Homo sapiens: one gene and its partners. The protein of the gene in region 2 purifies or fractionates together with the protein of the main gene of each other region. This does not show direct contact. Each region holds a gene or a part of one and is shown on either strand. Other genes may lie near its edges. The genes, in order: AGPAT3, SLC7A1, TMEM11, SGPP1, TSPAN15, MTCH2 and MAVS.

The links.
Region 1: the proteins of SLC7A1 (region 2) and AGPAT3 purify together in Homo sapiens (affinity purification with mass spectrometry; 3 studies listed by BioGRID and IntAct, with this or other methods). This does not show direct contact.
Region 3: the proteins of SLC7A1 (region 2) and TMEM11 purify together in Homo sapiens (affinity purification with mass spectrometry; 3 studies listed by BioGRID and IntAct, with this or other methods). This does not show direct contact.
Region 4: the proteins of SLC7A1 (region 2) and SGPP1 purify together in Homo sapiens (affinity purification with mass spectrometry; 3 studies listed by BioGRID and IntAct, with this or other methods). This does not show direct contact.
Region 5: the proteins of SLC7A1 (region 2) and TSPAN15 purify together in Homo sapiens (affinity purification with mass spectrometry; 3 studies listed by BioGRID and IntAct, with this or other methods). This does not show direct contact.
Region 6: the proteins of SLC7A1 (region 2) and MTCH2 purify together in Homo sapiens (affinity purification with mass spectrometry; 3 studies listed by BioGRID and IntAct, with this or other methods). This does not show direct contact.
Region 7: the proteins of SLC7A1 (region 2) and MAVS purify together in Homo sapiens (affinity purification with mass spectrometry; 3 studies listed by BioGRID and IntAct, with this or other methods). This does not show direct contact.

The regions. Positions count from the first base shown.
Region 1 is NC_000021.9:43,959,223-43,962,722, reverse strand, and holds part of AGPAT3 (1-acyl-sn-glycerol-3-phosphate acyltransferase gamma), read right to left. Parts: intron 3,090-3,500; coding exon of another isoform or gene 3,042-3,089; coding exon 2,864-3,041; intron 2,092-2,863; exon of another isoform or gene 1,944-2,091; intron 1-1,943. UniProt on the Homo sapiens protein: Converts 1-acyl-sn-glycerol-3-phosphate (lysophosphatidic acid or LPA) into 1,2-diacyl-sn-glycerol-3-phosphate (phosphatidic acid or PA) by incorporating an acyl moiety at the sn-2 position of the glycerol backbone.
Region 2 is NC_000013.11:29,515,689-29,519,188, reverse strand, and holds part of SLC7A1 (high affinity cationic amino acid transporter 1), read left to right. Parts: intron 1-1,398; coding exon 1,399-1,616; intron 1,617-1,878; coding exon 1,879-2,045; intron 2,046-2,942; coding exon 2,943-3,051; intron 3,052-3,500. UniProt on the Homo sapiens protein: High-affinity, low capacity permease involved in the transport of the cationic amino acids (arginine, lysine and ornithine) in non-hepatic tissues.
Region 3 is NC_000017.11:21,200,808-21,204,161, forward strand, and holds part of TMEM11 (transmembrane protein 11, mitochondrial), read right to left. Parts: intron 1-3,354. UniProt on the Homo sapiens protein: Plays a role in mitochondrial morphogenesis.
Region 4 is NC_000014.9:63,700,566-63,704,065, reverse strand, and holds part of SGPP1 (sphingosine-1-phosphate phosphatase 1), read left to right. Parts: intron 1-3,354; exon of another isoform or gene 3,355-3,500.
Region 5 is NC_000010.11:69,454,465-69,457,964, reverse strand, and holds part of TSPAN15 (tetraspanin-15), read right to left. Parts: intron 1-3,500. UniProt on the Homo sapiens protein: Part of TspanC8 subgroup, composed of 6 members that interact with the transmembrane metalloprotease ADAM10.
Region 6 is NC_000011.10:47,629,060-47,632,559, forward strand, and holds part of MTCH2 (mitochondrial carrier homolog 2), read right to left. Parts: intron 2,653-3,500; coding exon 2,595-2,652; intron 2,029-2,594; coding exon 1,977-2,028; intron 1,556-1,976; coding exon 1,496-1,555; intron 1-1,495. UniProt on the Homo sapiens protein: Protein insertase that mediates insertion of transmembrane proteins into the mitochondrial outer membrane. Catalyzes insertion of proteins with alpha-helical transmembrane regions, such as signal-anchored, tail-anchored and multi-pass membrane proteins.
Region 7 is NC_000020.11:3,860,334-3,863,833, reverse strand, and holds part of MAVS (mitochondrial antiviral-signaling protein), read right to left. Parts: intron 2,503-3,500; coding exon 2,330-2,502; intron 1,581-2,329; coding exon 1,421-1,580; intron 1-1,420.

The DNA of each region.
Region 1 (3,500 bases), on a different chromosome or scaffold from region 2:
CCCTCGCTCAAGAGTCCTGGTTTAGCTTCAGCGCCCTCTGCTACAGCTGCCCAAGGGTTAGGCTCCTGAAAGGCAGTGCTGACATTCCATTTCTGCACACCCCGGTTTTTGCTAAAGGGATTTGGTGGAAGGGTGGAGCTGAGAGGTTTTTGTTTCCTTACTGTGAGCCCAGAAATGCATTAAAAAGCCAGTTTCAGGCAGGATTTAGCTGTTTTGTAGTATTTTAGCTTCAGAATACTGCTAGAAAGTAGGAGTCTGTAATTTAGTTTTCATCAGTTAATATTTGCCCTTTTTGTATGTATTCATCTTATCCAGTTATACTCATGAATAACTCATTTGTATATTTTATATTATAGGATTTCCAATTCTCCCTTCCCACAGAAAAAAGCAGCAGCCTTTCATTTAAAAAAGGAAACAAACTGGCCGGGCGCGGTGGCTCACGCCTGTAATCCCAGCACTTTCGGAGGCCGAGGTGGGCAGATCACGAGGTCAGGAGATCAAAACCATCCTGGCTAACACAGTGAAACCCCGTCTCTACTAAAAATACAAAAAAAATTAGCCAGGAGTGGTGGCGGGTGCCTGTAGTCCCAGCTACTCGGGAGGCTGAGGCAGGAGAATGGCGTGAACCCAGGAGGCAGAGCTTGCAGTGAGCCGAGATCGCACCACTGCACTCCAGCCTGGGCAACAGAGCGAGACTCAGTCTCAAAAAAAAAAAAAAAGAGAAAAAACAAACCAGGAACTGAAGCTATAACACATTTAAGACAAGCTAGTCTAAGGGCTGGGTTACTAGTCTCTCTGCAGACAGTGGGGTGTCGCAGGCATGAAAAGTTAGCTGACATAAACAGCCTTTTCAGCAGTGCTACCGGCTCCTGAACTGGAAGGAGATCGTGCAGACAAGGTTACAGGCCAGCCATTTCCCATATGAGACAAAGTGTCTATGCGCTCACCATTTCCTACATGAGACAAAGTGTATACGCGCTCACCGTTTTCCATATGAGACAAAGTGTATGTGGGTTCACCATTTCCCACATGAGACAAAGTATCTATGCGCTCACCATTTCCCACATGAGACAAAGCGTATACGCGCTCACCGTTTCCCATATGAGACAAAGTGTATGTGGGTTCACCATTTCCCACGAGACAAAGTGTCTACGCGCTCACTGTTTTCCATATGAGACAAAGTGTATACGCGCTCACCGTTTCCCACGAGACAAAGTGTCTACGCGTTCACTGTTTTCCATATGAGACAAAGTGTCTACGTGCTCACCCTTTCCCACATGAGACAAAGTGTCTATGCGCTCACCGTTTCCCATATGAGACAAAGTGTATGTGGGTTCACCATTTCTCACGTGAGACAAAGTGTCTACGCGCTTACCGTTTCCCACGAGACAAAGTGTCTATGCGCTCACCGTTTCCCATATGAGACGAAGTGTCTATGCGCTCATGCAAAAACATGGAAACAGCATGAGAGTGTGAAATAAAACGTAAGAATCCCCTCCTTTCCCCACTCCCTGGATATCAGCATCACGCAGTTTTCTCGGGCATCCTTCTGAGATTTTTGTTTTCTTTTTTTTTTTTTTTAGACAGAGTCTTGCTCTGTTGCCCAGGCTGGAGTGGTGCAGTGGTGTGATCTCAGCTCACTGCAGCCTCCACCTCCCAGGTTCAAGCAGTTCTCCTGCCTCAGCCTCCCGAGTAGCTGGGATTACAGGTGTGTACCACCATGCTCAGCTAATTTTGTATTTTTAGTAGAGACAGGGTTTCACCATGTTGCTCAGGCTGGCCTTGAACTCCTGACCTCAGGTGATCCACCTGCCTCAGCCTCTCAAAGTGCTGGGATTACAGGCATGAGCCACCATGCCCAGCCCCTTCTGGGATTTTTCCACACATGTACACACCACACACACAGCATCCTTTCTTAAGACACAAAATGAATCATAGCATACTATGGACTTTGTTGTATACTTCCTTTTTCGCTTAAAACTGTACGGGCAAGATGAAGGCTCTCCATGATGGCCGCAGAGGGTCCCTGTATGGGTGCCGCATAATTAGTCTCCAGTGACAGGTGCTTGGGTTGCTTCTAGTTTTGTGCTACTATAAAAATAATACAATAATGAGAATACCTGTGATAAAATGAGAACACCTGTCCAGTTGCATACTTTTGCACATCTCTGTAGGTTGCATGTTATTCTGTGGAATTGCTGAGTTGAAAATTGCAACCACTTAAACTGTTGACGGCCACTGCCAAACCACCCTCCAGAGATGCGCCTGTTCATGTCCCCACGACGCCCGGTGTGAGCGGTTACCTGTCCACAGTGGGTGTTGTTACCAAGCCTCTGAGTCTCTGTCCACATGACAGGTACAGATCGGTTTCTCTATGTATAATACACATACGCACAGAGGCACATACGGACAGACACACAGCTACACATGTGTTTGATACGCAGGGAGGCAGGACACCTTTTCTTTCAGGGATGCATGCTGAAATACGCGTCAGCATGCTCTGGTGTTGGCGCAGTGTGGGCAGGACACACGAGGGGCCATGTAGGGAGCTGTTGGAGCTTGGTAACGGGTAAACAGAACTCAACATTCTCTTTACTTTTGTTTAAACATTCCCATATGCTCTGGTAAACCGTGGGAAGCTGCCATTGCTATGGGTCAGAATGGTGAGAGTGGCACGTCACACAGCTCAAGCTAAGAAAAAGAGGTAGCCAGGTGCCTTCCGACAGCCTGCCAGCCAGATGGCCTCGGCACCTCCTGCATAGCCCTCACTTCCTGCCTGAGAGCCCACGGCTGCCCCGTGCATGGTCGCGCGCCACCCCCACGGGAGCCCCAGGCGGCAGGGACTGGCCCAGCAGACACTCACGGCTCCAGAGTGAGTAGGCGAGGCGGCAGTTGAGGCGGCGGTAGAGCTGCTTGCTGACCGGCCAGAGCGCCAGCGTGCACAGCTGGACGAAGTTGATGACCAGACCACTCACCACGAAGACAAAGCCGACCAGCAGGTGCAGCACGAACTGGGTCTTCAGGAAGGCCAGCAGGCCCATGGCGCTGCTCAGGAGCGGGTGCACGGCCCCTCGCTGAGGACAGCCGTCCTGCAAAGACAGGGACAGGGACAGCGTCAGGGTGGCCACGCCCACACCCTCACAGGAACACCGGGGCACTGCTCACTGCACACCCCGCACATGCCTCACGCTTATACACACATGCTGCACAGCACACTGCAAACCCCACACACGTGCCACACACATACAAACCACACACATGCCACACACACCACACTGCAAACCACACACACGCCACACACCACAAACCACACACACACCACTGCAAACCACACGTCACACACACACCACAAACCACACATGCCACACACATACCACACACACGCCACACACACACAACCACACACACGCCACACACCACAGCTCATCACAAACCCCACACATGCCACACACATGCCACACACACCGCAAACCACACACCACACACACACCACATCACAA
Region 2 (3,500 bases):
TCTCGGTCCAACTATTAGGCCAGGATCCTGGGATCAGAAGGTTTGAAGACTGATTGCAACTTGGTTCAGATTCTTGGGACAGAGAGGATTGAGGGCTGCCCTGGTAGGAGTTAGGAAAACCCAAGGCCTGTGAAACCCAGCTCAGCATAATGCTTCTGCAGCTTCGTTGCGCTGTGGCTGGAGGAATGAATCCCATTATGTGGCATGGCGTGCCCTAGGTTGATGTTCAGAGACACTGTGGAGTCAGCTTGTTATAGCCTGGTGGGGGCCAGGCAAGCCTCTCCCAGTCACAGTAAAGCTGCTCTGGGCCTAGGCTTGGTGTCTCGGTGTTCTCACCTGCCTCAGCACCCACTCCCAAAGCACATCCCTGCGCAGCTTCCATCCTGAGAACCTGTGCTCATGGAGACGCTCAGCACTGGTCTCCCCTCAAGAGCCTCCTCATTTCTTTTCAGGGATTCCCACCTGCAAGGCCATTGATTGCATTTCCAAGGTGTTCAGCAGCTGATGCACATAAAACCCGGGCTGAGCCTTAGCAGAAGCTCTTTAGAATCAGCTAAGACTATTGGGGACCCCTTATTCCTCCCAAGGGGCCCAATGCTAGAATATTCTCTGAGGTCTCCCACTTTCTTAATTGACCGAGTGGGGTTGCACAAGTGAATCCATACAAAAATGGTTAATATCTTTATACTCCCTCTTAGAATTGATCATATGCAAAATAATTCATACAGAACTCTGTGTTTCAAAGCTGGTGGAAAAGATTTGCACTCTGTTCATTTCGGGTGGGAAGATAAGGCACCTCATTCAGAATGGATGCTCCACTAGCAGGTAGCTCATGTCTTGGAAATCACGCTGCAGGCTCGGCCCTCCAACAAGCCACATAGAATTATTTACCCTAAGGTACTTGGAGTTTTAAAATAAATTGATCCAATTAAGTCACACAAATAGAATTTCTCAAATCCATCTAGCCTGCAGCCACATTTCTCTGGCTCTCTGTGCCAAATAGGATCCTGGCATTACTGCTTCCTATTTCTCTCCTTCCCTTTTGCTCCCTACAGCAGTAATTTTGTGGGAAGTGGCCTAGTATCTTTAGCATCTGAGGGCCGCTGCCACTTCTCAGAGCAAGAGAGATCCTCTCAGGGTATTCCTCTGGGCTGCTCATGGTGGAGGTCATGTCGCCCCGAAGGAGAGACCATGGAGGATGTTCCCCAGAAGCAACAGCGGGAGGTGGTGTTCCCGGTCTCTCCTCGTCTATCTACAATGCAGCATTTGACTATATCCTTCCCATTTTATACCTTGTGTCCCGGGCAGCTCACTTTGGAGGCTTATTGAGAACTTGAGTTGGTGCACGTCATTTTGCTTGAAGCAGATGTGGCGGTCACGCAATGCCTTTCTTCCCAGGTACCAGCCAGAGCAGCCTAACCTGGTATACCAGATGGCCAGTACTTCCGACGAGTTAGATCCAGCAGACCAAAATGAATTGGCAAGCACCAATGATTCCCAGCTGGGCTTTTTACCAGAGGCAGAGATGTTCTCTTTGAAAACCATACTCTCACCCAAAAACATGGAGCCTTCCAAAATCTCTGGGCTAATTGTGAACATTTCAACCAGCCTCATAGGTAAGAGCTAGCCCTTCCCTGGGGCCTTGCTTGTTGGCATTGCATGGTTTCTAGGCAGTGGAGCTGGAGTTGGGGGAAGGTGCCAGAGAAGATGAGCATCTGTCTTGCTCCTGGACTGGGACATAGTTACTCTGTGTTAACTGTAGTTGTGCCTTCGGAAATGGAGCCTCTCTCTCCACAAGTTTAGGGGAGAACAGTGGATGCCTGTGGGAAATTGGGAAATGGTTGAGTTGCAGCTTGCTGTCTTTTCCTTCCCCCTTAGCTGTTCTCATCATCACCTTCTGCATTGTGACCGTGCTTGGAAGGGAGGCTCTCACCAAAGGGGCGCTGTGGGCAGTCTTTCTGCTCGCAGGGTCTGCCCTCCTCTGTGCCGTGGTCACGGGCGTCATCTGGAGGCAGCCCGAGAGCAAGACCAAGCTCTCATTTAAGGTGAGCAGCTCGGCCTAGGGAAGGAACCCTGGTACACAGACCCTGGCCCTCCTGATGCCTGGCCAGCCCTGCGTGGGCTCAGCCGGGCCTGGGTGCTCCCGAGGAAGGTTTTTGCTAGCCAGCTTCAGGTAAGATGGGGCAGGGGTCCTGAAGGCACAGAGAGGACCAGACCCTGGAAGGAGGCAGCAGCCCTTCTCCCCTGGACGTTTCCCTGAGTAGTCAAGGGCAGGCTGACACCTTCCTGCATGACACAGGCCAAGAGAGACCTCGCCAGTCCCTGGATATTCGGCATCTATTTCTGAATTCTCTGGAAAATAAATGTCCCTTGTGATCAGTGTTTTATGAAATGTGCTGCCTCTTCCCCAGACAGTATCAAGGGTGCTGCTCATGAAGCCACTTGCCCCTAAGTTTATACATAATAGCAGACCCAGTGGAGCAGTCCCTCCGGGGTGGTGGGATGCTTCTCGTAAATGTCTGCTCAAGTTGATGCATGAGTTTTCCAAGCCTTGGAGACGGGCAAGGCTTCTGCATTTTTAGATTACACAAATAATAAAAAAGGTTGTTGACCTTAGAGGTAAAGTGGAGGTCCGTCTTCTAGTCCTTTCTTTAGCAGGAGAATCGCAACAGAGAAAAATGAGAATGGAGTTCATTTGGCCATTCAGAGCTTAGAATCAAATCCCCACCTACTAAGATGTACCCTTGGGTGTGTTTGTGTGTGTGTTTGGGTGCGGGCTGTGTGTGGGGTGTGGGAGTGGGGGTGGGCACTCCCTCTCTCTTCCCCACACTCGCCCGACGGTCCCTGTCACTCTCAGTTGTGCTGCCTTTACTAGACAGTTTTACTGAACTATTGGAACCGGCGCCACTGCCATGGATTGAAGCCACCTCCTGTCTCTTCAGGTTCCCTTCCTGCCAGTGCTCCCCATCCTGAGCATCTTCGTGAACGTCTATCTCATGATGCAGCTGGACCAGGGCACCTGGGTCCGGTTTGCTGTGTGGATGCTGATAGGTATGTGATGCTGCTGCCAGCACGTCCAAGATCCTGGCTTCCCCTGGGGGTCTCCCTTGTTTCAGATTTCATAACAGAATGACGCACATCCAGTCAGCAGCTTTCTCGAAGATAATGCTGAATCCCTGGTAGGCTGTGAGTCCTCTCCTCCCTGTTAGATACTTTTTGTTTCCATTGCTTCTTGTCCAAACTATTTATTCTTTTGGGCAAGACCTTGATATTAACAGGAACAAGGTGATGAGTCTGCTGCAGATAAGGTACCAGTTATTTTCACCCCAGACAGGAAAGTCTGGCCTGTGCCTCCTGGCCCCCTGGCCTGCCCAGCACCAAATTGGTACGGGCACTAGGCCCAGGCAGGGTGGATGTCATGGGCTCCTCTGTGATTGCGTCTTCTCTGTGGAGGGAGAGTGCTTTGGAGCCTATGGGAGATGCCACTAGGGTGGGGAGCT
Region 3 (3,354 bases), on a different chromosome or scaffold from region 2:
GCACACCTGGCTGCGGTGCAGAGGAGAGTCATGGGGAGCTGAGCCACCTGGCCATTGGCCGTAATATGGGAGTGACGAGTGAAGACATTCATAACAAGCCACCCCAGAACCTCAGCCCAGCATGAAGGTAACTCCCTCCAGCCTCCTTCAAAGATGGGAGCAATTCCAAGTGAAGGATGGTGGAAATCGGACTGTCGGGAAACTTCAAGGAAAAAGAACAGGCAATCGTAGTTCTTCCTACTACTGAGACTCCTCCCAGCTCAAAGCTTTCAGCAAACAAATAAGCAAACCTAACAGGCAGGGTTGCATTCTGGTTGGATAAACAACTAGTTAACGATCTCATGTGGCCACATTAAAGATGAAAGTCATTGGTAATGGGCTGACTGTGCCCCCAAGCATGGGGACCCTAACCCCGCCCCTGGGTGGGAACCACTTTCATAAAAGGCACTGGCTTGGACTTGGGCAAACGGAACTCTTTATCCTGAAAAAGTCACTGTAACTAAGCCAGGCTAAGGCAAAGCCTCCTAATTCAATCATAGGCCCTAATTAAACGGCATGCACTGGGGAGAAATCAGTGCCCTGAGGGTGGGACAAGAGCCTCCTAAACATGGGTTGCTGCCAAGCCACCTGTGACTGTGCCAGTGTCACGGCTGCCTCGCCAGGGATGAAATGATGAGCTGTTACTGTAAGACTGCACGAGCAGCTTATGAAATGGGGAAAGGAGGGTTTTCCTTCTAAAGTTCTCGGTGGAGTTTTTCCATTTGGTCTTAGAGGAGAGGTAAGGGAGAGGCCAGCTGTTACTTCCAGGTAGGATTCAACAGTTTTTATTTTTGAGACAGGTTCCTGCTCTGTCACCCAGGCAGGAGTGCAGTGGTGTGATCTCTGCTGATGGCAGCCTCGACCTCCCGGGTTCAAGAGATCCTCCCACCTCTGCCTCCCGAGTAGCTGGGACTACAGGTATGTGCCACCACGCCTGGCTGCCTGGCTAATTAAAAAAATTTTGTTGTACAGATGGGGTTATGCCATGTTGCCCAGGCTGGTCTCGAACTCCTGGGCTCAAGTGTTCCACCCGCCTTGGCCTCCCAAAGTCCTGGGATTAACAGGCATGAGCTACCGCATCCAGCCAGATGCAGCATTTTAGAAGCTACCTACAGCAAACAAGCACACCCAAAGCAGGGTCTTCACTGGCGCTGGAAAGCTGAAGGCCGAGCAGTGCCCCCACGTGCTCAGATGAGAAATGAGTGGCGGTGGCGCAATGGGCTGGCTGTGGCCCTGGGTGTGCGGGGAGGGGCGGGGCCTCCACTCTCAGGTGGGAGCACTCCTGGCCAAGAGAACTCCCTTCTGGTCTCAAGTCCATCAGGCAACAGGAGCAGAGAGGCCAGATAACAAGGTAGGGGTGGAGGACCAAATCGTGTCCCAATCTTGAGACGGAAATGGAGTTGCTTCCAAGTCAGCTGTGCATCCTACTGACTGTCAAAGCCAGGCCAGGGACACCTTGGGGCGGGCACCAGAGGCGGGCTTCCTCCCTCAGGAACACTCAAAGCAAAAGGGAGGTGTCAAGCTGGGGTTACACAATGTTCTCGCCAACACCCAAATCCACCCTAGTGCGGTACCTTTCTCTGCCCAGCAGGCCAGCGCCATCCTGAATGTAGTGAAAACCACTGTTGGTCCCACAGAGGAAATTCCAGTGGAAACCCCGGTCCTGGAACCGACTGCCCCATCTGGAAACACAGCAGTGGGCAGATCCCACCCCCTCACCCCCTCCGGCCCCCCTGCAAGCCCAGCTGGCACCCACATCCACCCAGACCCCTCTGCAGGCTCCATCGCTTGCTGGGACGGATGGGTGGGTGCGTCCACGAGTCCCAACCAGCCTGGAAGCAGCGAGAAGCCAAGGCCCTCCAGGCTCCCTCCCACCTCACTGCTGTTGCCAGGTGTGGCCCGCCCCCCAGCACAGGGAGTGAGGAGACTGGGCATCCTCTGCCCTCGGCTGTGGGCAGTCCTGTGAATGACACAGCCATAAGCAAGCACGTGGACATGGGGGCACTCGCCAGCACACATCCTGAGATGGTGGCGTGGGTCTGCCCCCACCTGCCTGTCAAACCATGGCCCCGGCCTCCTGCAGCCTCGGCGTCTTCATATGGGCTGGGCACTGTTGCTGCCCACTGTCTAAGACACCTATCCACAGCAGAAACACAAAGGACATAAGCCACACTGCCTTCAAACAAAGGCAGGGTCCTGCACAACGGCGCTGAGGCCAGAGGCTCACCAATTCTGCTTTTAAAGCCAGTTAGGCAAAGGGAATCTCGGTTTCCACTGGGAAAGGACAACACGTGAAGTCTAGGGAAGTGGATTTCTAGGATTCTATAAGGCAACAGACCCTATATGGAGACGGTAAGGTTCAAACCAAAACACACACAGACGCACCCAAAGCCGCAGGATCCCTCCGTTGGAGCTCACCCGGCCACGACCAGGCAGTCAGCACTCCAACTTCCTGGTACACTGGTGGGAGTGGGGTGCTGTCAGTGCAGACACAGGTTTTTTAGCTGCCACTGCTGGGCCCTTGGGTTCAGGTCTGCACTGCTGACAGGGACTGCTGCACTTCTCTTACTTCAGAAATTCGTGGCCATGACCAGGTGCGGTGGCTCACGCCTGTAATCCCAGCACTTTGGGAGGCAAAGGTGTGCAGATCACTTGATGTCAGGAGTTCGAGACCAGCCTGGCCAACAAGGTGAAACCGTCTTTACCAAAAATTAGCCAGGCGCGGTGCTGCACACCTGTAATTACAGCTACTCAGCAGGCTGAGGCACAAGAATCACTTGAACCTGGGAGGCAGAGGTTGCAGTGAGCCAAGATTGTGCCACTGCACTCCAGCCTGAATGACAGAAAGAAAAAAAAGAAAAAAAAAGAAAAAAGAAACTGCCAAGTACTCCCAGGAGACAGCCACGTCCAGCCAGCTCCTGACCACCCAGCAGCCACCCGTATATGGCTTGCTTCTGCTTGTGGGTCAAACAAAACCTAATGAAGGAAAGAACCCAGTCAGAAGGTTATCTCAAACCACTGCAGAGCATCACCAGCTGCCCCCTAACTGGTAAGGCCATGGGCTTTAGGAACTGGGTGATCTGAACCCTGGTGCATGGGAGATCTTTTTTTTTCCTTTTTTTTTTTTTTTTTAAATTATATGGACTTTTTTTTTTTTTTTTAAGTAAGAGCTAGTTGGAATCTTTTGAGCCCTGGGCTTCCTAAGGGACTGTATTTTTGCTTTTCATTGCAGGTGTGAAATGACCAGTAAGAGAGCAATTAATAGAGTCTATGTTTAAAAAAAAAAAAAAAAAGAAAGAAAAAGTGGCCAGGTGC
Region 4 (3,500 bases), on a different chromosome or scaffold from region 2:
CACTTGAGCCCAGGAGTTGGAGACCAGCCTGGGCAACATAGCGAGACCCCCATCTCTATAAAACATTAAAAAATTAGCAGGGTATGGTGGTGCACACCTGTAGTCCCAGCTACATGGGAGGCTGCATTGGGAGGATCACATGAGTCCAGGAGTTGGAGGCTATGGTGAACTATGATTGAACCACTGCTAGATTGCACTCCAGCCTGGGTGATAAAGCGAGACCCCACTCCCCACCTGCCGCCAAAAAAAAAAAAAAAAAAAAAAACTTAAATAGGGATTACATTGACTATAGATCATTTTAGATAATAGTGCCATTTTAACATATTAAGTTTTAATGTATTAAGTCTTCTAATCCATAAACATGGGATATCTTTTCATTAATTAGGTCTTTTTTTTTTTTTTTTTTTTTTGAGATGGAGTCTCTCTTGCTCCGTTGCCAGGCTGGAGTGCCGGGGTGCAATCTCAGCTCACTGCAACCTCTGCCTCCCGGGTTCAAGCAATTCTCTTGCTTCAGCCTCCCAAGTAGCTGGGACTACAGGCACGCGCCACCACGCCCAGCTAATTTTTGTATTTTTAGTGGAGACAGGGTTTCACCATGTTGGCCAGGATGGTTTTGATCTCTTGACCTTGTGATCCGCCCACCTCAGCTTCCCAAAGTGCTGGGATTATAGGCATGAACCACTGTGCCTGGCCTTAATTAGGTCTTTAATTTCTTTCAGTAATGTTTTATAGTTTTCAATGGACAAACCTTTCACTTCCTTAGTTAAGTTTATTCCTAGGTATGGGTATTTTATTCTTTAGGATGCTACTGAAAGTGGAATTATTTTTCTTACTTTCATTTTAGGGTTTTTTTTTTATTGCTGGTATGTAGAAACACAGCTGATTTGTGAGTGTTGATCTTACACCCTGCAACTTTGCTGAATTCATTTATTAATTCTAATATGTTTTCTTCATGGATTATTTGGGATTTTCTATCTTTAGGATCACTTCGTCTGTGAATGGGGGTATAGTAGCCCCGCTCATCAGCAGAGGATATGTTCCACGACCCCCATTGGTGCCTGAAACTGTGGATAGTAGTCAACGCTATATATACTGTTTTTTTCCTGTACATATGTATCTATGATAAAGTTTAATTTATAAATTAGGCACAGTAAAAAAAAATATCACTTTATCTGTTATTTCCTTTAGCCATTAAGATCTGTAGTCTTTTTTGTCTGCTTACTGATGAAATTCTTTTTTACTTTGACACTTAGAAGTTCAGAATTCTGTTATTCAATGGGGAGTAAATATGAAAGTCATCATGTAGTCAGAACTGGATCAAGTGTTCCCCAAAATGTTTTCTTTTTAATTTTTTTTTAGACAGAGTCTCACTTCTTCACCCAGGCTGTAGTGCAGTGGCGCAATCTCGGCTCACTGCAACCTCTGCCTCCCAGGTTCAAGCGATTCTCATGCCTCAGCCTCCCAAGTAGCTTGGACTACAGGTGCGTGCCACTACACCTGGCTAATTTTTGTATTTTTAGTAGAGACAAGGTTTCATCCTGTTGGCCAGGCTGGTCTCAAACTCATGATCTCAAGTGATCAGCCTGCCTCGACCTTCCAAAGTGCTGCTGGGATTACAGGCATGAGCCACCATGCTTGGCCCCAAAATATTTTTTTTCCATAAAAAAATCTAGAGAACATATCATAAAGGTGGAGAGTAATGACCAAAAAAAGTCGGTCAATAAAAATGACTTATTTTGTTTTCTTTAGTCACCTCATCCCAGTGAAATCTGAAGGTGCCATGGAGCAGAGAAAAGGAAAGCCTCATAGCTTCTTTAGCCTCTGCATCTGGCTTGATAACATTCCATCTCTCCTTTTTAAACACCTTGGACATCGTAAAATTGAATAAATGTGGGTTAAGTCATACTTGGTTTCATTGCTCCTATTTAAAATCTCTACCCTTCCCCGTCCTACCTTCACCTCTAGCTTCTGAGACTCTATAGGTGATTTTTTCTTCAGTTTGTTGTGTATAAAGAACTCTTATCAGTAATTTTGTACATTTCTACTTCCTTATAGGGTCCAAGTTAGAGAAGGAAGTGCAGAAAGATTTTTTTAAAGTTGACTTTTTTTTTTTTTTTACTTCTTTTGGTTCTTTTTTTTTTTTTTTTGCTGTCAACAGCTTTTTAAAAATTAGACTTTAAAGGTTTTTAAAGACTTTAAAGGTCAAGTCCCTGCTGTAGAGACAGACACCACTGTTATCTCTTACCTAGATTATACCAACAGCCTTCTAACTGGTCTTCCTGTTTTTGCCTTACTCTCTTAAAATTTAATCTCTACATAGCAGCTTTACTCAAAACCCTGCAGTGGCTCCCCATTTGATTCACAATAGAAGCCAGTTTTCTTATGGTGGCCTCCCAGGCTCTACTTGATCTGGCCCCCCATTACCTCCCTAACCTCTTCTACTTGCTCTCTCTGCTATGGCCACAGCTAGCCTCCTTGCCAGTCATACTTGGTGATCAGAAACTTTGCTCACTGATTCGCCTGCCTAGTATATGCTATTCCCACAGATAATCTGCTTGGCAAGTATACTCACCTCACCTCCATTCCGTCTTGCCTCAAATCTCAACTTCTCAATAAAGCCTACACTATCTTCTATTTAATACTGTAACCTGCCCCATTTACACTCTGAAACTCATGACCCTATTTTTATATCTGTTTTAATTAAGTTAGACTTGTTGATACTGTGGCAATGACTTAATCCCAAAATTGCAATGACTTAACACATAACAAAATCTTGTATCTTGGCCAGGAGTGGTGGCTCATGCCTCTCATCTCAGTACTGTGGGAGGCCAAGGCGGGTGAATTGCTTGAGCCCGGGAATTTAAGACCAGTCATGGGCAACATGGCGAGACCCTGTCTCTGCAAAATATTTTTTAAAAAATCAGCTGGATGTGGTGGCACACCTCTAGTCCCAGCTACTCTGGAGGCTGAGGTAGGAGGGTCGCTTGAGTCTGAGAGGTGGAGGTTGCAGTGAGCCGAGATCATGCCACTGCACTCCAGCCTGGGCAACAGAGCGAGACCCTATCTCAAAAAAAAAAAAATCTTGTGTTACAAATCCATTATGCGTTAGCAAACAGCTTTGTCCACTTTGACCCTCAAGGACCTAGGCTGATGGAAGCTTGCCCGTCTCGTGATGCATCTCAACATGTAGTTTCCCAGGGTCACATCTATAGGAAAGAGAGAGTTCAAAGGAAGATTGAAAGTGGCATAAGTCACTTTTTTCCCCAGCTCACTGGCCAAAATTAGTTGCATGACCCTAATGTAAGTGAATCCAAAATGTAGGAGGAGCACAAGGAATATTAATGAGCATTACTATTTCTTCAACACATGTTCTCTTTTTATTTTCTCCATGTTACCTATCAGGTTTTATTATATGATTTATATATTTTATATAACTTATACATATTTACATATCATATCATTTGCATGCTTTTGTGTTTACTGTTTAATGCCTCCTCCAG
Region 5 (3,500 bases), on a different chromosome or scaffold from region 2:
TGTCTTTAACAGCCCTTCTCATTCTTAGTCTATGGCTCTTGAGCAGCAAGGCTAGAGAGGAAGGCAGGAAAAGAACGACTAATCCATGACTAGTTGATGGAGTGTTCATCATGTGCCAGGCACCACTCTAAGCTCTTCAGATGTATTAATCCATCTAATCTGCTTAGCAACTCTTCAGGTAGGTTAGGTGCATGGAAGTTATGTCTAGGCCACTTAACCTTTAAGTGTCAGAGCTGGGATTTGAACCCAGGCAACCTGGTACACAGCCCACACTCTTAACCATTAAACTATAAGAAATGTAAGAAATCACAGGCCAAGCTCTAATAAGCAGGTTCATCCTTGGAGAAAGCCCAGAAAGAGTTCCTATTGCCTCTGGCATTTGCTGCCTCCACCACCTACCCACCCTCAGCTCCTCCCTACTTGCCCCCAACTCCCACCAAGTCCTTTTCTTCCTGATTAGTCAACACTCCCCAGCCATGACACCTTTACCCACTTGAAAGTCCTACCCTGTTATCAAGGAAACAGGCTTGGTGCTCTGTGGAGAGTCCGTAGCACCATGATCAGCCCTGCCCACTTTGCAAAGTCAAGGCCTCAGCAGACCTGACCACTGCGGGTTACACCCCCAGCCAGGCCTCTGCCCCAAGCTGGATCCTCGCCTTGTAGGTACAAGTGGGACTCAATCACCATCATGCAACATGCCTCCCCTGAGCACCTACTGTGTGCACAGGCCCCAGGGGCAGCATTCAGAGGAGGATATGGATGAACTACAATCCTGACCTCTGGGAGCCCACAGTCCAGCAAGGAAAAGCAGTCCTGTAAACGGATCTCTAAGATACCCCGTGGGCAGTGCTAAAATTAGAGGTGTGTCCCCAATGGGCTGAGGGCGCATGTGTCAGAATGATTCACCCTGTGTGGTGGGAAAAGGAGGCTCTAAGTGCCTCAGCGTGAGCTCATTTCTCCCGCAGACATCCCCATGACTTACTGGAAGGGCCAAGGAGCACCTACCTGAGGATGCAGGGACCTGGGGTACATGCCAGCTCTGACAAGTGAGCCTCAAACACACCCTTTTGCAGCCCCAAAGTTCCCTGCCGAAAACAAGAGGGCCCTGAGTGTGGGACAGATAACCATAAGTGGTTTAGGGGTATACCTATCATAGGGACTTACAGACTGAGCTTTCCTCGTTCAATGCCCTTTCGACCCCTCCGATTGCATCAAGGAGCGGGTCTCAGTTTGGGTGCTAGTTTGTCTTTCAGCCCCTCAAGCACTTGCCAACCTACCTTTTGAACAGAGAGGGTAGGCGTCAGGGTCACAGCCTTCAGCACCCATGACATCCAGCTAGGATTTAGTATCATTGTTTTGTTTTCCCTGTACTGTACTTATTTTAAACCTTTACCTGCTATTTATGATGGGCGTCTTGGTTTCCCATTCATAATACTGATATAAAGCCTCCTTTTAAAAATAAATTTAAAGGCGTGCATATTCAGGGCAACTTGAACCTATGTGCCTGGAAAATAAAAAATATATACTTTAAAAAAGGGAAAAAAAGGAAAAGAAATTTAAGTTTAAAAAGGAAGTTTAGGCTGGACACAGTGACTCACGCCTGTAATCCCAGCACTTTGGGAGGCCCAGGCTGGTGGATCATTTAAGGTCAGGAGGTCGAGACAGTCTGGTCAACATGGTAGAACCCCGTCTCTACCAAAAATACAAAAATTAGCCCATCGTGGTAGTAGGCGCCTGTAGTCCTAGCTACTCGGGAGGCTGAGGCAGGAGAATCGCTTGAGCCTGGAAGGCAGAGGCTGCAGTGAGCCAAGATCACACCATTGTACTCCAGTCTAGGTGAAAGAGCGAGGCTCTGTCTCAAAAAAAAAAAAAAGTAAGTAAATTTAAATAAACATATTAAGTAAATAATATTACAATTGGTGTCACCTCTATATAGGACAATTTAATAACATCAAAATGTTAAATGCACATACAAAAACAGGCAAAGCTATTCTATACTGCTAGATAATCCAGTGGTGATCACCCACAAAGGTAAGAGATAGTGCCTAGAAGAGGGTTTGAGGGGTATCTGCCTTCTGCTGTCCATTCTGCTGGTTGACCTGGGGGCTCAGTGTACAGGTGTGTTCACTTTGTGAAAACTCATCAAGCTGTATATACTGATGGCAGGTGCGTGTCTGCATGTATAACATATATTCATATACCCCTTAACTCAACAACCCCACTCCTAGAATTACTCCACAGACATATACACCCATGCAAAATGACACATTCAGAGATACTCACTGTGTCACTGTTCTCAGTGAAAGAAAGAAAGGAAGAAAGAAAGAGACGGGGGGGGGAGAGAGAGAGAGAGAGAGAAAGAAAGAAAGAAAGAGAAAGAAAGAAAGAAAAGAGAAAGAAAGAAAGAGAGAGAGAGAAGAAAGAAAGAAAGAGAAAGAAAGAGAGGGAAAGAAAGACTGGGAACAACCTAAGAGTTCCCCAGCTGGGGACTATTAAATAAATGTGGCATAGCCTAGAGTGGAATCTATGTAGCCAACACACAGAATGAGGCAGCTCCTAGCAGATCTCCATAATTCACGTGGATTTAAATTTAAGTGAAAGAGGGGCTACATACGTAGTTCTGTGTATAGTGTGCTACCTTATTTTAAATATACATATGTTTGTCCTAGGACATCCTTTGACTACGATAGCTCAGAAAAGAGTGACAGGAAACTGATAACAAAGGCCTCCTCTGGACTGGGCAGGCCAGGAGAGAGGGGTAGGAGGGGAGGCTTGTCACTAACCACTACCCTTTCCTTTTTTTTTTTTTTTTTTTTGAGACTGTCACCAGGCTGGAATGCAGTGGCGCTATCTAGGCTCACTGCAACCTCCGCTTCCCGGGTTCTAGCGTTTCTCCACCTCAGCCCTCGCTGTAGCTGAAACTACAGGCACACGCCACCATACCCAGCTAATTTTTGTATTTTTAGTAAAGACGGGGTTCCGCCATGTTGGCCAGGACGGTCTTGATCTCTTAACCTCACGATCCGCCCGCCTCAGCCTCCCAAAGTGCTGGGATTACACCTCACCCGGCCTTACCCTTTTCTACTTCTAAATTTTGTAACAAGCCCATGCATGCATTTCTATCAGTAGTAATTTATTTTTTATTTTTTATTTTCTGCAACAGAGTCTCATGCAGGCTGGAGTGCAGTGGCACAATCTCAACTCACTTCAACCTCCGTCTCCTGAGCTCAGGTGATCCTCCTACCTCAGCCTCCCAAGTAGCTGTGACTACAGGTGCATGCCACCACGCCCAGCTAATTTTTGTATTTTTAGTAGAGACAGAGTTTCATCATGTTGCCCAGGCTGGTCTCGAACTCCCAGGTTCAAGCAATCTGCCCATCTTGGCCTTCCAAAGTGCTAGGATTACAGGCATGAGCCACAATGCCTGGTCAATAGTAATTTTTTTTTTTAAACCGAGTCTTACACTGTCACCCAACTACAGTGCCGTGGCACGATGTCAG
Region 6 (3,500 bases), on a different chromosome or scaffold from region 2:
CAATAAAAATAAGAACCAAAAAATGTGATCAGTAACATGACAGGCTCTTCAGTACAAATGTTTGTCAAATAATTAGAGGTCACAAAACATTCTAGGGAAGTAAAAAAGGAATCAAACACCAGAATCCAGCCCGCATACCTAGTTCATTCTCGTTAACACAGCTGTACTTGAAGCTGATCTCCAGTGACTTTTGTTCCTATGTTTAAAATGCAGGTCGGCTATACCCTCAGTGGCTCACCTTACTATTCATAACTGTAAGCAGGGAGGCAAAAGATTTGCGAGGTGCTTTGCAGAAGAGACTTAAATATTGTTTTGCTTTGACTAGCTTAAAAAAATGATTTTGCTAAGCTATCTGATATTCATATTTGGCAGAGCAAAAGACGAGAAAAATTACAAAGCAAGAATGGTCCCAAGTACAGATACAGATGAGAGGCATCAAAAACCACATTTCTAGGGTCTGGGTGACCTAGGTGAGGCAGCATGGAATAGTGGGAAGAGCATTTCCCCACGGATTGAAGACCAGCTTCAAATGCCAGCTCCAGCACTCAGCAGCGATGTGACAGGCAGCAGATGAAACTCTCAGAGCATCAATGTTTTTTAATCTCTAAAGTGATACTAATTATAGCTGTCCTGCCTATCTCACAGGGTATTTATGATATTCAAAATCCGTATGGGGAGATACTCTGAAAATTAAAAAAAAAAAAACAAAAAACACCATTTCGGTAATGATGCAAAATTTTTCCTCATAGAAGAATGAGGGTAGTAGTCTAAGTTCTTCCAAAGTAAATTCAAGCCTTGCAAAAACTTACTCTTTTACGGTAAGGAAAATACAAGTTAAGATGATTTCCCCATTTTTCAACATTTAATTTTTCTCATTTTATTATCTATATAGAATTGGGAGTTTACTACAAGGGTAGAAACTTGGAATTAAGTCCTTTGTTAAAAAAAGAAATTCCTTATTTATTTATTAATTATTATTATTTTTTTGAGACGGAGTCTCACTCTGTCACCCGGGCTGGAGTACAGTGGTGCAATCTCAGCTCACTGCAACTTCCACCTCCCGGGTTCATGCAATTCTCCTGCCTCAGCCTCCCGAGTAGCTGGGATTACAGGCACACACCACCACACCTAGAGGTGGGGTTTTACCATGTTGGCCAGGCTGGTCTTGAACTCCTGACCTCAGGTGATCCAACCGCCTTGGCCTCTCAAAGTGCTGGGATTACAGGCGTGAGCCACCACGCCCGGCCTCAAATGTTTTAAGTATCTAGAAGTAAAGGTTTGGGATCTTTACAAGATAATTCTAGTCATATGGGGCCTAAATATGCCTTTCTGCAGAGAAAAAAGAAAAAAAAATAAGGGGCCTAAATAGAATGTAACGTGAGGTAAGCCCAGGGAGTACGTTTTCCCCAAGGATTAAACAAAGACTCACTATTCTTACTTTCAGAAAACGTTTCCCACTCATGCAAAAATTACACACTAATCAACATTTACTCACGCGAAAAATCCTAGAATGCCCTCTTCCCGATAGATGGTTATTATGGAATCACAAAGTCCACTACGTACACAAGAAGAAAAGGTAAAATATATTAAGATTCTTTTGGAGCTATAAACAAAATAATTTCAATTATCACATTGGACAAGGTCAAATCCACGACCTCCTTCCCTCACACTTTTCTAGCACTCTCTCACTCTGCAAAGATAGCTAAATTTGGAGATAGAAGTGAAAATATTAACTACCTAGGGGTATAGTCATATGGAGTCAGGGGCTCTGCAACTTACTCTGAAATCCTACGTAGGCTACTAAACCTGCCTGGGTATATTTTCTCCCATTTTATTGTTTTTTGTGCAGATCAAATGACATCAGATACGAATTTGTTCTACAAATTGTAAGGGTATCATAAAAATACAAAGTAGTATTATTCTAGTACTTTGGCTTCAAAAGATCTCCTTGAGTATGTGAAAACAAAAATACTTACCAGTACTTGGATTCTCTGCCAATGAACTGTACCATAGATCTCAGAGTGATCACTGTGGAATATAGAGAAAAGATGTTTACAACTATGTTAAGGCCAGGTGCGGTGGCTCACACCTGTAATCCCAGCACTTTGAGAGGCCGAGGTGGGCGGATCACCTGAGGTCAGGAGTTCAAGACTAGCCTGACCAATATGATGAAGCCCCATCTCTACTAAAAATACAAAAATTATCCAGGCGTGGTGGCATGCACCTGTAATCCCAGCTCCTTAGGAGGCTGAGACAGGAGTACTGCTTGAACCCGGAAGGCTGAGGTTGCAGTGAGCCAAGATTGTGCCATTGCACTCCAGCCTGGGCAACAAGAGTGAAACTCCGTCTCAAAAACAAAAAACAAACAAACAAAAAAAAACTATGTTAAGATAGATTTTGATAGCCCTGGGAAAAAAAAAGATTTTCCACCTAAAGACATTTTGCTATCTGGATAAATTGGATAAAAGCCAAAACAAGCAAGCAAACAAAAACATGCAGGCAAGGCATTTTAGTCAACTCCCACGTCAACCTATCTAAGTGGTCAGGAGAGATCAGGTTATAAAAGAAAGGTCAGTTGTCAACTGCAAACATACCATGGAAGGGATGTGTGATGAGGGTAGCAGCAGAACGAGCGATCATCTCTCGAGTTGTCTAGAAACAATCAACACACACTTCTGAAATCTAAACAAATGACACTCAAATGCCTGTGAGAAGGAATGTGGGTGGATATCGTGGTATAGGATAAGAAAGTGAATGACACAGCCCTCCTGCCCTGGCTGGAGTCAAGAAGAGTTTGAATGGGATGTGAAAGATCTCATTCATTGTCATTTTATCATACTTTTCACTCATGGATCTCAATGTTCTATTATAGTTACTTCTCAAAATTTCTCTGCAAAGCAGGCTTCTGTTGTTTTCTCAATTTTACAGGTAAGAGAAAAAAATAAAGAAACAGGAAAGGTCACCAACAAAGTCATTAAGCTGAAATAAAAAATATGAGGCCTTTATTGAGATTATTAAGTTGCTCTCTTATTGGTAAGTGATTTTGGAGAGTCTGACATCATTCTAGATAAATGACAGGCTCCATTTAGTCTCTACTCACATTTTTGGGAGAAGAGAACAATTTTGTTTTGTGACTACAACCCAGTAACTGTGCAGTATCTTAGAGCTGCTGTGTTTTTCCTAGTTTATCTTTCTACTCTAGGGCTCTGTAAGGAAGTAATAAAGAAAATTAAATTATAATCTTTGCATTTAGGTTCTGGGATTGCAAATGTAAGCAGGTCTACCATTGGCTTTTGCATTTTTTTTTTTTTTTTAGGACAGTCTTGCTCTGTCACCCACGCTGGAGTGCAGTGGCGCGAACTCGGTTCACTGCAAGCTCCGCCTCCCGGGTTCACGCCATTCTCCTGCCTCAGCCTCCCAAGTAGCTGGGACTACAGGCACCCGCCATCATGCCCGGCTAATTTTTTTTCTTTGTATTTTTTAGTAGAGACGGTTTCACC
Region 7 (3,500 bases), on a different chromosome or scaffold from region 2:
AGGGGTGGCAGGATGGCTCATGCAGAACAGCTCACACCAGCCGAGAGGCCTGGCCATCCCGGAGGCTTGGGAAGAGAGGGGACAAGGACAAAGCCACCCCTGGGAGGCTGCCTGACCTGGGTGGGGGAAGCAGAGGATAGCAGGTGGTGATGGTCTGTAAAGGCAGTTGCAGCAGGACTCTCCACGGAACTCGGAATGCACATGCCAAGCCCCACAGCTGGCAAAAGTCAGGGTGATTCTGATGTACAGCTCCCCCACCACAATCTAATACCACAGAATCTCATGGGACCTGTGTCTACAAACGTACTGAAACCTAAGCGCCCTCTGCCTCTGTGGTCTACAGCAACTCCTGAAAGGCATCCCGTGGCCAGGTGACACTGCAAAGCAGACAGGTGCTTGGAGCAGTTTGGGGATGACAAAAGTACTAAGATGACGTCTCCCAGCCTCTAACTGCTCATGTGTCTTGTGGCTGTCCCAGGGCACTGAGGGCTGACTGGGCACCAGCGTCATGTGGAATAGTTTGGGAAGTAGGAAAGAGACATGCTGGCCTGAGAGGTCCAGATGGACAACTATATATTTCTGAGGGGGAGCACTGACATCTGGAGTTGAGTCCAGGCCACTGGATGATGAAGACCTTACTTCCTCTGGGGACTGAGAAGTTTTCATGATTCACTGGGAACTGGAGATCTCTGCGGTAAGACAGTGCCTAAAGGTTCCCCTGCCAACAGCTGATGCAGCCCTTCACTGTCCCTCTCCCACTGCCCTATAGGCCCTGGCTGTTCCCTACAGTCCCTTTGGCAGAGCGCAAAAATGGCCCTACTTATCTCGCTCATCTCCACCCAGCCCCACTGCACTGTGCCTGTCAGTCCTCCCGTCTAGGGAGGGAGTCTATTTCCCTACTCCTTGAATCTAGGCTGGCCTTATAACTTGCTTTTGCCCACAGAATGGAGCACAGGGGACACTGTGCCAGTTTTGAGCCCTCTCTGAGAACTCTGCCCAGCTGCCATGATGGGTTTGTGTGCTGGAGGATGAGAGACTACATAGAAGAGAACCAAGGTGCTCAGCAAACAGCCAGAGGCAGAACTTATGTATATACCGGTGAGTACTTGAGAGGAAATTCAGCCAAGACCAGAAGAAATGCCCATGTAGGTAGCCCAAATGCCTGACCCACAGGATCATATGCTAAATAAATGGCTGTATTTTAAGCTACTAAAAAAAAAATTTGGAAAACTGGAGTGGACTATTTGTTACACAGCAAATGCTAACTGATACACCCACTAAGGAACTGGTTTGCTTCCTGGGTTGAACTCCCTTTATTCCCACCTTGTCTCCTGTTCAAGGAAGCCAGATGGGGCAACTCTAATTCTTACCCTCACTTGAGAGATCAGAAGGACCCTATAATTCCAGATTCCATGCATACCTGCTGTGTGGGTACTGCCCAGTTCTGTGTCCTGCTCCTGATGCCCGCTGGAGGTCAGAGGGCTGAGGGCTGCCAGGTCAGAGGAGGACTCCAGGGGGCCACCATCTGGATTCCTTGGGATGGCTCTGGGGCTGAGCGTCTGCAGGGCTTGCTCTGAATTCTGCAATGAGGGAAAATATGAATAAGGCAGTTGCCTCTCCCAAGAGCTCACAAAGGGCAGCTTGTGCTCTTGGGGCATCTCCTATAGGCCTCAGCCCACACCATGGAGCACAGGAGCCAGGGGAGCCCTTGCCTGGGTTCTGGTAATTCCCAGACCCTCTGTCCACAGGTGTCCTTACGTCTACCTCACAGAAAACACACAGCATTGCCAGGTGCGGTGGCTCACGCCTGTAATCCCAGCACTTTGGGAGGCAAAGGTGGGCAGATCACCTGAGGTCAGGAGTTCGAGACCAGCCTGGCTGACACGGCAAAACCCCATCTCTACTAAAAATACAAAAATTAGCTGGGCGTGGTGGTGGGTGCCTGTAATCCCAGCTACTCAGGAGGCTGAGGCAGGAGAATGACCTGAACCCAGGAGGCAGAGGTTGCAGTGAGCCAAGATCACTCCACTGCACTCCAGCCTGGGTGACAGAATGAGACACTGTCACACACACACACACACACACACACAAAACTGTGGTCTCCCAGCTGGTTGCTGACAGAGGATTAGGGCTGCCACAGGGTGAAGACCTGGTCAGCAGCCTGGAAGCTGGTCTGGGGCAGATCCCCACTGAGGAAGCCCTAGGGTTCTGAGCAGAGATTAGGCGTGATTTATAGGGGACGGGAGAGGGTTTCTGGAAGGCTCAATGGGCAGAAGTGGGCAGATAGGAACACAAAAGTGGTGGCTCAAGGTAGACTATGAGGACAGACCTCTCCTGGGGACTCTGGCGCCTGGGTCTCCTGGACAGGCATGGGGTAACTTGGCTCCTTCTCTCTGCAGCTGTTGTAGGGGATGCTGTGGGCCGCAGCAGGTGTGGGGGGCCCTGGCCTCTCAGCAGGAAGTGACGGTGGCTCCAGTGGGTCTGGGGGACGGTCCGAGGTCCCTAGAGGACAAAGATGTAGTGATATCAAGAAGGAATCAGGGCTGGGCACAGTGGCTCATGCCTGTAATCTCAGCACTTTGGGAGGCCAAGGCAGGCAGATCACGAGGTCAGATCGAGACCACCCTGGCTAACACAGTGAAACCCCATCTCTACTAAAAATACAACATTATTATTAGCCGGGCATGGTGGCGGGCCCCTGTAGTCCCAGCTACTCAGGAGGCTGAGGCAGGAGAATGGCGTGAACCCGGGAGGCGGAGCTTGCAGTAAGCCAAGATCGCGCCACTGCACTCCAGCCTGGGCGACAGAGCGAGACTCCGTCTAAAAAAAAAAAGAAAGAAAAAAAAAGAAGGAATCAGGGGCTGGGCACGATGGCTCATGCCTGTAATCCCAGGATTTGGGGAGGCCAAGGCAGGTGGATTAGGAGGTCAGGAGTTCAAGACCAGCCTGGCCAACATAGTGAAACCCCGTCTCTACTAAAAATACAAAAATTAGCCAGGCGTGCTGGCAAGCACCTGTAATCCCAGCTACTCAGGAGGCTGAGGCAGAAGAATTGCTTGAACCTGGGAGACGGAGGTTGCAGTGAGCTGAGATCGCGCCACTGCACTCCAGCCTGGGCAACAGAGCAAGACTCCGTCTCGGGGGAAAAAAAGAAAAAGAAGCCAGACGTGGTGGCTCACGCCTGTAATCCCAGCACTTTGGGAGGCCGAAGTGGGTGGATCACCTGAGGTCGTGAGTTCGAGACCAGCCTGACCAACATGGAGAAACCCTGTCTCTACTAAAAATAACAAAATTAGCCAGGCGTGGAGGCGCATGCCTGTAATCCCAGCTACTCGAGAGGCTGAGGCAGGAGAATTGCTTGAACCTGGGAAGTGAAGGTTGCCATGACCTGAGATTGCACCATTGCACTCCAGCCTGGGCAACAAGAGCGAGACTCCGTCTCAAAAAAAAAAAAAAAAAATAGAAGGAATCAGGGACTATAGGGAGGCTGAGGAAGGAGA